Linked DNA regions of Homo sapiens: region 2 is linked to region 1. Evidence: fine-mapped expression QTL. A gene starts in region 1. The other region holds a variant in brackets. All regions are shown on one strand. Distances are between the middles of the regions. Region 1 holds the start of NONO (non-POU domain containing octamer binding). Region 2 overlaps TAF1 (TATA-box binding protein associated factor 1).

The links. PIP is the estimated chance that this variant, and not a neighbour inherited with it, causes the effect.
Region 2: its variant is fine-mapped to the expression of NONO in whole blood (TOPMed, PIP above 0.99). The same link has a PIP of 0.9 or more in blood mononuclear cells.

What each region holds. Positions count from the first base shown.
Region 1 is chrX:71,281,393-71,286,771 of GRCh38, forward strand. NONO (non-POU domain containing octamer binding) reads left to right here and starts at 2,243. Exons shown (of 12, transcript NM_007363.5): 1 at 2,243-2,329; 2 at 3,005-3,061.
Region 2 is chrX:71,406,884-71,412,262 of GRCh38, forward strand. TAF1 (TATA-box binding protein associated factor 1) reads left to right here. Exons shown (of 38, transcript NM_004606.5): 27 at 691-789; 28 at 1,091-1,268. Among named protein-coding and RNA genes, the nearest start is that of TAF1, 43 kb to the left of the region's middle. The variant G/A (reference allele first, on the strand shown) is at 2,589.

The sequences.
Region 1 (5,379 bases):
AAAAAGTGGTCCTCCACTGGGTGCCCTGGCTCATGCCTGTAATCCCAGCACTTTGCCAAGTGGAGGCGGGATTCCTTACACCCAGGAGTTTAAGACCAGTTTGGGCAATATGGTGAAACCCTGTCTCTACAAAACATACAAACCCACCGTGGGCGTAGTTGTGCACTCCTGTAGTCCCAGCTACTGAGGAAGCTGAGGTGGGAGAATCGCTAGAACCTGAAAGGCAGAGGTTGCAGTGAGCTGTGTTTGTGCCACTGCACTCCAGCCTGGGTGACAGAGCAAGACTGTCTCTAAGTAAATAAATATAAACAGTACATACATAGAAAATAGAAACGCAAGAAAGTGGTCATAATTGCTATCTCTAGAGAATGAATGGGGGGGAGACTTTTTTTTTGAGACGGAGTCTCACTCATTGCCCAGGCTGGAGTGCAGTGGCGCAATCTTGGCTCACTGCTAGCTCCGCCTCCTGGGTTCACACCGTTCTCCTGCCTCAGCCTCCCGAGTAGCTGGGACTACAGGCACCCGCCACCACGCCGGCTAATTTTTTTTTTGTATTTTTAGTAGAGACGGGGTTTCACCATGTTAGCTAGGATGGTCTCGATCTCCTAACCTCGTGATCCTCCCGCCTCGGCCTCCCAAAGTGCTAGGATTACAGGCGTGAGCCACCACACCCGGCCAAGACTTTTCTCTTTATACTGTTGGGTATTGTTTGATTTTTCTTTTTTTTTCTATGAGTAAGTATTAGTTTTCTTCTTCTTCTTTTTAATTGAGACGGGGTCTCACTCTGTCACGCAGGCTGGAGTGCAGTGGCGCGATCTCCACTCATTGCAGCCTCTGCTTCCCGAGCTCAAGCTATCCTCCCACCTTAACCTTAACCTCCTGAGTAGGTGGGACTACAGGGACACTCCACCACGACAGGCTAATTTTTGCTTTTTTTCGGAGATGGAGTTTCGCCATGTTACCCAGGCTGGTCTCGAACTCCTAGGCTTAAGCGATCCTCCCGTCTCGGCCTCTCAAAGTACTGGGATTATAGGCATGAGCACTGCACCTAGCCGGAATTAAAAATTCAGGTTCTCAGTTGCATTAGTCATATTTCAATGGCCACTTATAGTTAGTAGCTGCCATATTGAACACAGCAGACATAGGACCTTTCCATCATTGCACACAGTTCTATTGAACAGCCCAAGTCTAGATCATTGTGTCCCCACATAAGGTGGTGCCCATTGGGATACCCTGCAACCCTGAGTGTGAATTAATTAATGGGAATTAACAACACATACTTATCAATTGATCCTTGTAGTCCTTGGTTAACCACGGGGGCGGGGCGAGTTAGGCATTACTGAAACAATGAAGGTTAGTTACTGATAGGCCTCCTATGGAATATACAGTCTGATCTAGAGGCCTACAATATATCCATGGCAATGATGACACCTGTTGAATCTCTCAGTAAATCATAGGAACAATAGTGATGTTTGGACTGCTAGGTTTTCTGGTTACCATGGAAATGAGGGTGCTGGTTACAATTCTGTGTAATCACGCAGAGCCTAAGGTATGATGCACCCCCTCCTCCCCCACCCCGTCTGTAACCATGACCAAAGAGTTGACTATTTCAGTTGCGTTTCCCGAGTAGCCCCAGCAACAGGAGAAGCATCTAGAAATATGATTAAGTATGGGGTGTCAGGATGCAAGCCCTAACAAGGAAGTGTGAAAAAAGAAACATGGCGGGGCATTTTTTTCAGTAGGAAAAGGCCAAATCTATTCCATTGAATACAATGACATTGTTACTCTTGCTTCTTGCACAGGCGCAGTGCAGGACTGCTCCGAGCACGCCTACGCGCGCATTTTCTCCCCTTCCTCTCCCTCTTTCCACTTTCCTCTCCCTTTTTCTCCTCTCCTTTCCCCCTCCCACCACTTGGTCTTTCAGTCTTTCAGTCAGTTCGTTTAGGTCTCTCCTTCCGACCCCCACCCCCAGCTCCTCTCCCTTTCCTTTTCCCCCTCCCCCTTTCCTTTCCCGTCTCACGCGCCAGGCCGCTTGCACATGCGCATTAGGTACAAAGCCTCGCTCTTTGTCCCCATCTGTCGTTCACACGAACTCAAGCCTTTGGCATTCGGCAGCCAATAGAATCTAAGAAATGGCGGAAAAATGATTCCGCCTCGGGAGCTAAACCTTGATTGGCAGTTTAGCTAACCAATCGAGAACGCCATTTTGTACCCCTTGGCAGGCACCGAGCTCCGTCGTCTCGTTTCCGGCGGTCGCGCGCTCTTTTCTCGGGACGGGAGAGGCCGTGTAGCGTCGCCGTTACTCCGAGGAGATACCAGTCGGTAGAGGGTGAGTTTTGGGACGTCTTGGTTCTTGTTTGGGAGGGTAGTGGGATTTCTTGGAACAATCAGCGAAGGAAGAGGCTAGGGCGAAGCTAGGTTTGGAGGGTGGATGGCGCTTCCGAGGCCCCTTGAGGCCTTGTCTCTGCCGCCACACTGCCTTCTCAGCCCACCCGCGGGGGGCCACCTTTCTCAACTCGCTTCGCTTCGGGCTTTCCCCATTTTCGTTCCTGCCCTGTTTCTTTGTGCAACTCATCTCCGAATCTTACCCGTGTCAGTAAGTTGCCGGCCTCTGAGCCGCCCTGGGCCCGACGGTGTGGGGTCTATTATGAGAGATCGCTGAAGTCGTGGTTGGTTAGAGGAGGAGGCGCTTTGTCGGGCGCTCCTCCTCTCGGCCCCGCGAGGCCATTAATTCAGAATGGGCAAGTGGGGCCCCTCAAGCGATATTTCTTTGTCAAAACTCTTAGCTGGAAAGTTCCTCTGCATATCCAGAGCCCGCCGCTTTCGTAGTCAGATTTCTGTATGCCCTTTTTCTAAAGTCCTAACCGCCTAGCTCCTTGACGCATTTATATAGCATCACTTTTTAAAATGAAACTTAAATTTATGGATTTCGCATCGAGTATTTTATTTTCCAGTTTGAGAAACTCTTACCATAACCTGACACGTTTCTTTGTGTTTTTAACAGAGAAGTCGAGGTTAGAGGGAACTGGGAGGCACTTTGCTGTCTGCAATCGAAGTTGAGGTAGGTGTAAGGAAGGGATAGGGTTGCCAGACAAAACACCGGGCACCCAGTTGAATTAGAATTTCACCTACACAACCAATTATTTTTAAGTATATGTTGCATAGTTTTCAATTAAATTTCAAATTTAATTGTGGGTTGTGTATTTTATTTGCTAAATCTGGCAACTCTAGTGGGGGGGCCCTGGTTATATTTATACTGTGTCCTTGTCCACCTTCCTTGTTATTAAATGAAAAGTCCTAAGAAACTCTTAGAGAAGGACCTTAGTTCATTTTACAGCTTTCAGGCTGGCCATCCAGGCAGCCATCTCAGTCTTGTAAATTTATACCAGATTTAGATTTCAGATATGTGTGATGTAGTGTTTGGTCCTCTACCTAAACATTTGTTTAACTGTAGCATGCCCAGTGGTTAGAGTCTTTCTCAACCAGCAATACGTGTTTTCTCTCAAAATTCTTCATCAGGATTATTAGTCTCAGGGACACAAGTAGACAGTAATCTTTGCTGCTGATCTTCGTGCTGTGTTCTCTTTTCAGAGGCCCAGTATTTAGGCGACAGTGAATTTATTACTCTGAAGAGGGTTCTGCACATATTTCCAAATTATATTGGTGGTCATCAGAAGTAGGTGATAGGAAGAAATACTTCTCAAGGTACTTGCTACTTGGTGGGCACTGTTATAGGTGCTTTATTATGATAGTCTTCACTAGTGCATTCCATCCTGGGCCTCTCCGGGGCCAGGGGAAGAGAGATGTTTAACACCTGGAACCCAAGTAGGAAAAGATTTGATTCTGATGCCCACCTTGCCCCATCCCCAACTATTTCCAGGGTGGACTTTAGATTTTGTATGTTTTAACTTCCTGCTTTTATATCTTATTTTTTAAAACACTATTTTCTTTTTTTGTTGTTTTTTTTTAAAGGTATCTCATTTGCCATGAAACTGCTACACCTGCTCATGGCGTTTAAAATCCTTACAACTTTTTGAGAAAACGACGTTGCACTATGTGGCAAGAGTCACAGGATAGATTCTATTTTTAAGAATTTATCCTATGGAAATAATTAAATGGAAATAAAGCTGAAAGCCAGAAGACATTTACTGCAGCGTTATAATAGGAAAAGCCAAAAACAACCACCTAAATGTCTTATAGTAGGGAGTAGTTTAGTAAAGTAGTACATCCTGGTGAACTTTATATAGTCATTAAAAATTACAATTATGTTGACATTAGCAGAAATGAGGAAACTCTGAATATACAAGGGTGCATTATCAGTTACTGAAATGATAATGTATGTCTAAATAAGCAAGAATGGAAAATTGTGGGAGGAATATTTAATCATGGATATGTCCAAAGATTTAGCTATGAGCATTGATTATAATGGTGAAAAATTAGAAACGACCCAGGTGTCCAACACAATAGGGACTTGGTTGACAACTGAATGCTGTGTCCGTTAACGTAAAAGATTTAATGACATGAAAGCTGTTTATGATACATCATAAAGTGGAAAAAACAGGTTACAAAATAGTATTTATCATATCTCATTTCAAATACATAAATTAATGACTAGAAGGATATACCAACATGTTAACAGTGACTATTTTTAGTGGCAGGTCTATGGATTTTTATATTTGTATTTTTATTTATTTTGGTTTTTCTAAATTTTCTATAATACATTTTGTAATAAGTATCTGATTGTAATTTCTGTTTAAAAATTTTTAAATAAAATTTTAAGTTGTAATTTCTGATACCTTATAACATTAATGAGAAACAAAATTGATTAAATGATATAAATGTGAAAATTTAAATCTTGGCTGAAATGTCAGATGTTGTGAGGTTTACCATCTGCCTCCTTCTCCCTATCCACTTTGCCTTCCTCCCCCATTTTTATTTATTTTCCCATAGCACTTACCTCTTAAGTACTATATAATTTACTTATATATATTGTCTCTCACTAGAAGCAAGTTCTGTAGGCAAGAATCTGCTTTGTTCACTAATCCACTGTAACCATCTAGAATAGTGCCTAGCAAATGGTAGGCATTCACTGAATATTTTTTGAATGAAATCGTGAATTGAAAAATTATCAGTAACCTAAAAGCAATGCAGTTGTTTTCATTTTTGCCTACCTTCTGTTCCCTTGTCTATATTCACATCTTTAAAATTAGAAAAAACCTTTCCCCGTTAGAATATCAGACATACTCGTGTTTATGTGGTCTTCATAATTTTTAAGGCTGTGAACATTCTGTTGTATAGATGTACCGTACTTTCATGAAAACCATTCCCCTAATTTTGGAAATTTAAGTCATTTTTATTGTTTTCTTACCATAAAGGCCA
Region 2 (5,379 bases), 130 kb after region 1:
CTAAAATATGTTTGTCTAGTTAGAGAAAGTGGATTTTTTTTTTTTTTTTTGAGACGGAATCTCACTCTGTCGCCCAGGCTGAAGTGCAGTGGCACAGTCTCGGCTCACTGCAACCTCCACCTCCCAGGTTCAAGCAATTCTCCTGCCCCAGCCTCCCAAGTAGCTGGGATTACAGGTGCACACCACCACACCCAGCTAATTTTTGTATTTTTAGTAGAGATGGGGTTTTGCCTTATTGACCAGGCTGGTCTTGAACTCCTGACCTCAGGTAATCCACTCGCTTTGGCCTCCCAAAGTGCTGGGATTACAGTGAGCCACCGTGCTCGGCAGATTTTTTTTTTTTTTTTTTTTTGAGACAGAGTCTCGCTCTGTTACCCAGGCTGGAGTGCAATGGTGTGATCTTGGCTCACTGCACCCTTTGCCTCCCAGGTTCAAGTGATCCTCCTACCTCAGCCTCCTGAGTAGTTCAGATTACAGGCACATGCCACCACACCCAGCTAATTTTTGTATTTTTAGTAGAGACGGGGCTTCACCATGTTGCCCAGGCTGGTGTTGAACTCTTGGCCTCAAGTGGTCCACCCACCTCAGCCTCCCAAAGTGCTGGGATTACAGGTGTGAGCTACTGTGCCTGGACAGAATGTGGATTTTTTTTGGTCTGAGGAAGCATTCTGATTTCACATTTCTCCTTAGAGACCTCATAAGTCCATCCACCGGCGCCGCACAGACCCTATGGTGACGCTGTCGTCCATCTTGGAGTCTATCATCAATGACATGAGAGATCTTCCAAATGTGAGTTCATTGCATTGGATATCTATAGTAGGGATGTCAAGGCCTTTTGTTCTGTCTGTGATTTCCAATAGAGGGCAGTAATCTGTAGATTTAGGTAACTGGAATGCCTAATTTTTAGGGAGTTAGTTTTTTTTGTTTGTTTGTTTTTTTAAGCAGTTTAGTAGAGGAAACAGACGTGCTCCATCTAGAAAGATTCCTTTCAGTGTTGATAGCCAGGTAGATAGGTAAGATGTGAAAGTCTTCAGGAATTGGCTCTGGCAACTGTTATTTGCTGATGTATGGTTCTGGCCCTTGTTTGCAGACATACCCTTTCCACACTCCAGTCAATGCAAAGGTTGTAAAGGACTACTACAAAATCATCACTCGGCCAATGGACCTACAAACACTCCGCGAAAACGTGCGTAAACGCCTCTACCCATCTCGGGAAGAGTTCAGAGAGCATCTGGAGCTAATTGTGAAAAATAGTGCAACCTACAATGGTAAGAATCAAATGTTCCGTGATTGCAAAGGTCACTGTTCAGATCCTTATTCCTTACTGGCCCTAAATTCAGACTAGATTGGACTGAGAGGACTACAGTGTATTTGTGCATTCATTTGTGGGTATGAAAATCAGGTAATGTACATTTTCAGTCATTTAATAAATATCACTTCTTTTTTTTTAAGGAGGGGGTTGGAGTCTCTGTCATCCAGGCTGGAGTGCAGTGGCGCAATCTTGGCTCACTGCAACCTCCGCCTCTCGGTTCAAGCGATTCTCCTGCCTCAGCCTCCCGAGTAGCTGGGATTACAGGCATGCGCCACCATGCCTGGCTAATTTTTGTATTTTTAGTAGAGACTGGGTTTCACCATGTTGGTCAGGCTTGTCTCTAACTCCTGACTTCGTCATCCACCCGCCTCAGCCTCCCAGGATTACAGGTGTGAGCCACTGCGCCCGGCCTAATGTCACTTCTTTTTATTCCCACTGTTTAATTCTTATATCCTTTGGAGAATTTGGAGTCTATTCGTTGCAATGAAACAGTTCCATGGAAAGTAGTGGAAGACGTGGTCCTAGGTTAGTACAAAAGAGAGACATTCGGCTGGGCGCGGTGGCTCACGCCTGTAATCCCAGCACTTTGGGAGGCCAAGGCAGGCGGATCACAAAGTCAGGAGATTGAGACCATGGTGAAACCCCCATCTCTACTAAAAATACAAAAAGTTATCTGGGCGTAGTGGCGGGCGCCTGTAGTCCCAGCCACTCGGGAGGCTGAGGCAGGAGAATGGCGTGAACCCAGGAGGCGGAGCTTGTAGTGAGCCGAGATCGTGCCACTGCACTCCAGTCTGGGCAACACAGCAAGACTCCGTCTCAAAAAAAAAAAAAAAAGAGAGAGAGACGTTCAGTGTGGATGGAACCTGTGTAGAGTATGCGCTTGTGACCATATTTGCTGTGTCTGAATCTTCGATTTGGTCTACAAATTTGTTAGAGGTGCTGTTACATGTTCACTTTGCTCAAAAGCTGAGAAGACAAAGAGGAAGAAATCTGTTTGTCTTTTTTTTTTTTCCCTTGTGAGACAGGATTTCATTCCTGTTGCCCAGTAGCCTCCTGAGTAGCTGGGACTACAGGTGCTTTCCATCACACCCTGTTAATTTTTGTACTTTTTTGGTAGAGATGGGGTTTTGCCATGTTGCCCAGGCTGGTCTCAAACTCTTGAGCTCAACCGATCTTGCCCACCTCGGCCTCCCAAAGTGCTAGGATTACAGGCATGAGCCATTGCGCCTGGCCTGTTGCTGTGTCTTAAAAAGAGGAAACAGTATAGCTTCTGCAT[G/A]TAAAGGATAAGGTTTTCTGGTTTCCATTTGCATCCTTGAGCACAGATTCACAGATATAAATGTAGGGATTCGGAGTACAGATAGAGTGTAAATCATGGCTCTGGCACTTACTAATTGAGTTACCATAGACAAGTTATTTAACTTCTCATACCCTCCTCAGTTTTCTCATCTGTAAACATGGGATAGTAGTACTACGTGAATTTTAAAACCTTTCACAAGCAGGCCCAACCCATTTATCTACTTTCCATCTCCAATAACTGGCTCCCATACCCACTATCGACCCCTGCCACACTCAGCATTATATTTCACAAAATATCCCTTATCATTTCTTCATGACTTTGCAGTCTTTGCTCTCTCAGTCTTTGCTCTCTTTCTGGGATGCCTTTCTTCCCTATATTTCCAGACCAACTCATATTACCTCTTTTTATTTTTTTTTTTGAGATGGAATCTTGCTCTGTCGCCCAGGCTGGAGTGCAGTGGCGCCATCTTGTCTCACTGCAACCTCCTCCTCCCAGGTTCCAGTGATTTTCCTGCCTCAGCCTCCCGAGTAGCTGGGATCACAGGCGCCCACCACCACACCTGGCTAATTTTTGTATTTTCAGTAGAGACGGGATTTCTCCATGTTGGCCAGGCTGGTCTTGAACTCCTGACCTTGTGATCCACCCACCTTGGCCTCCCAAAATGCTAGGATTACAGGCATGAACCACCGCGCCCGGCCGCATTCTTTTCTTTATTTCACCATAAGAAATCTTTAAAATGGATACTGTTATAACCCTCATTTTCCAGATGAACATACAGGCCCGTAGTGTTTAAATAGCTTAAAAAAATTTATTTTTTTTATGATGAGGTGATGGGTTGATGTGTGCAGCAAACCACCATGGCACACGTTTACCTATGTAACAAATCTGCACATCCTGCACATGTACTAAAAAAAAAAATAAAAGAGGAAGATGACTTTACCTTTAGGGGCATTTCTTTTTTCTTTTTTTTTTTTTTTTTTTTTGAGACGGAGTCTTGCTCTTTGACCCAGGCTGGAGTGCAGTGGCGCTGTCTTGGCTCACTGCAAGCTCCGCCTCTCAGGTTCATGCTATTCTGCTGCTTCAGCCTCCCGAGTAGCTGGGACTACAGGCGCCAGCCACCACGCCTGGCTAATTTTTTGTATTTTTAGTAGAGACAGGGTTTCACCGTGTTAGCCAGGATGGTCTAGATCTCCTGACCTCGTGATCCACTCGCCTCGGCCTCCCAAAGTGCTGGGATTACAGGCATGAGACACTGCACCCGGCCTTTTAGGGGCATTTCTAATCTACATTTGTGATTTTCTTTTTTTGGAGATGGAGTCTTGCTGTGTCGCCCAGGCTGGAATGCAGTGCTGCGATCTTGGTTCACTGCAATCTCTGTCTCCTGTGTTCAAGCGATTCTCCTGCCTCACCCTCCTGAGTAACTGGGATTATAGGCATGCACCACCACACCGGGCTAATTTTTTTATTTTTAGTAGAGATGAGGTTTTGCCATGTTGGCCAGGCTGGTCTCGGACTCCTGACTTCAGGTGATCTGCCCTCCTCAGCCTCCCAAAGTGCTGGGATTACAGGCGTGAGCCACTACACCCGGCTGATTTTCTCTTTTGAAGCAGTCTCACTCTGTCACCCAGGCTGGAGGAGTGTGGTGGTACAATCTTGGCTCACTGCAACTTCCTCCTTTTCTGGGATTCAAGCGATTCTCCTGCCTCAGCCTCCTAAGTAGCTGGAACTACAGCTGCGCCCCACCACGCCTGGCTAATTTTTGTATTTTTAGTAGAGACAGGGTTTCACCATGTTGGCCAGGCTGGTCTTGAACTCCTGGCCTCAAGCGATTCACTGACCTTGGCTTTTCAAAGTGGCGGGATTACAGGCATGAGCCACCACTAGGCTTAGGCATGAGAATCACTTGAATCTGGGAGGTGGAGGTTGAAGTGAACCAAGATCGCACCATGGCACTCCAGCCTGTGCGAGAGAGCGAGACTCTGTCTCAAAAAAAAGAAAAAAAAAGATAAAGTAGAGATGTTAATCCAGTTATATCTAACGTCAGAGCCTGTACTCTTAACCACCATGCTCCATATACTGTTCTCCACTTTTTCACTTACTGTTTATGCCTCACAACCCTGCACTTGTCTTCTGCTGAAGTACCAGCTACATCCTAATTGCTGGATCCACTGGCCACCTTTCAGAAGTAACCTTTTATTTAAACACCTTTATTGAAATATAATTCACGTACCATGCAGTTTAACCATTTAAAGTGGTCAGGTTTTTTGTTTGTTTGTTTGTTTGAGATGGTGTTTCGCTTTTGTTGCCCAGGCTGGAATGCGATAGCGTGATCTCAGCTCACCGCAACCTCCACCTCCTGGGTTCAAGCGATTCTCCTGCCTCACCCTCCCAAGTACCTGGGATTATAGGCATGCGCCACCACTCCCGGCTAATTTTGTATTTTTAGTAGAGACGGGGTTTCTCCATGTTGTTGGGCTGGTCTTGAACTCCCAACCTCAGGTGATCTGCCCGCCTCGGCCTCCCAAAGTGCTGGGATTAAATCAGGCATGAGCCACCACGCCCGGCTGGCTAAAGTGGTCAGTTTTAACATGTCATCCATATTGTAACATGTATCAGTACTTCATTCCTGGTTTTTTTTTTTTTTTTTTTTGAGACAGGGTCTCACTGTGTTTTCCAGGCTAGAGTACAGTGGTACAGTCATAGCTCACTGCAGCCTCACCCTCTCGGGCTCAAGGAATCCTCCCGTCTTAGCATCTCAAGTAGCTGGAAC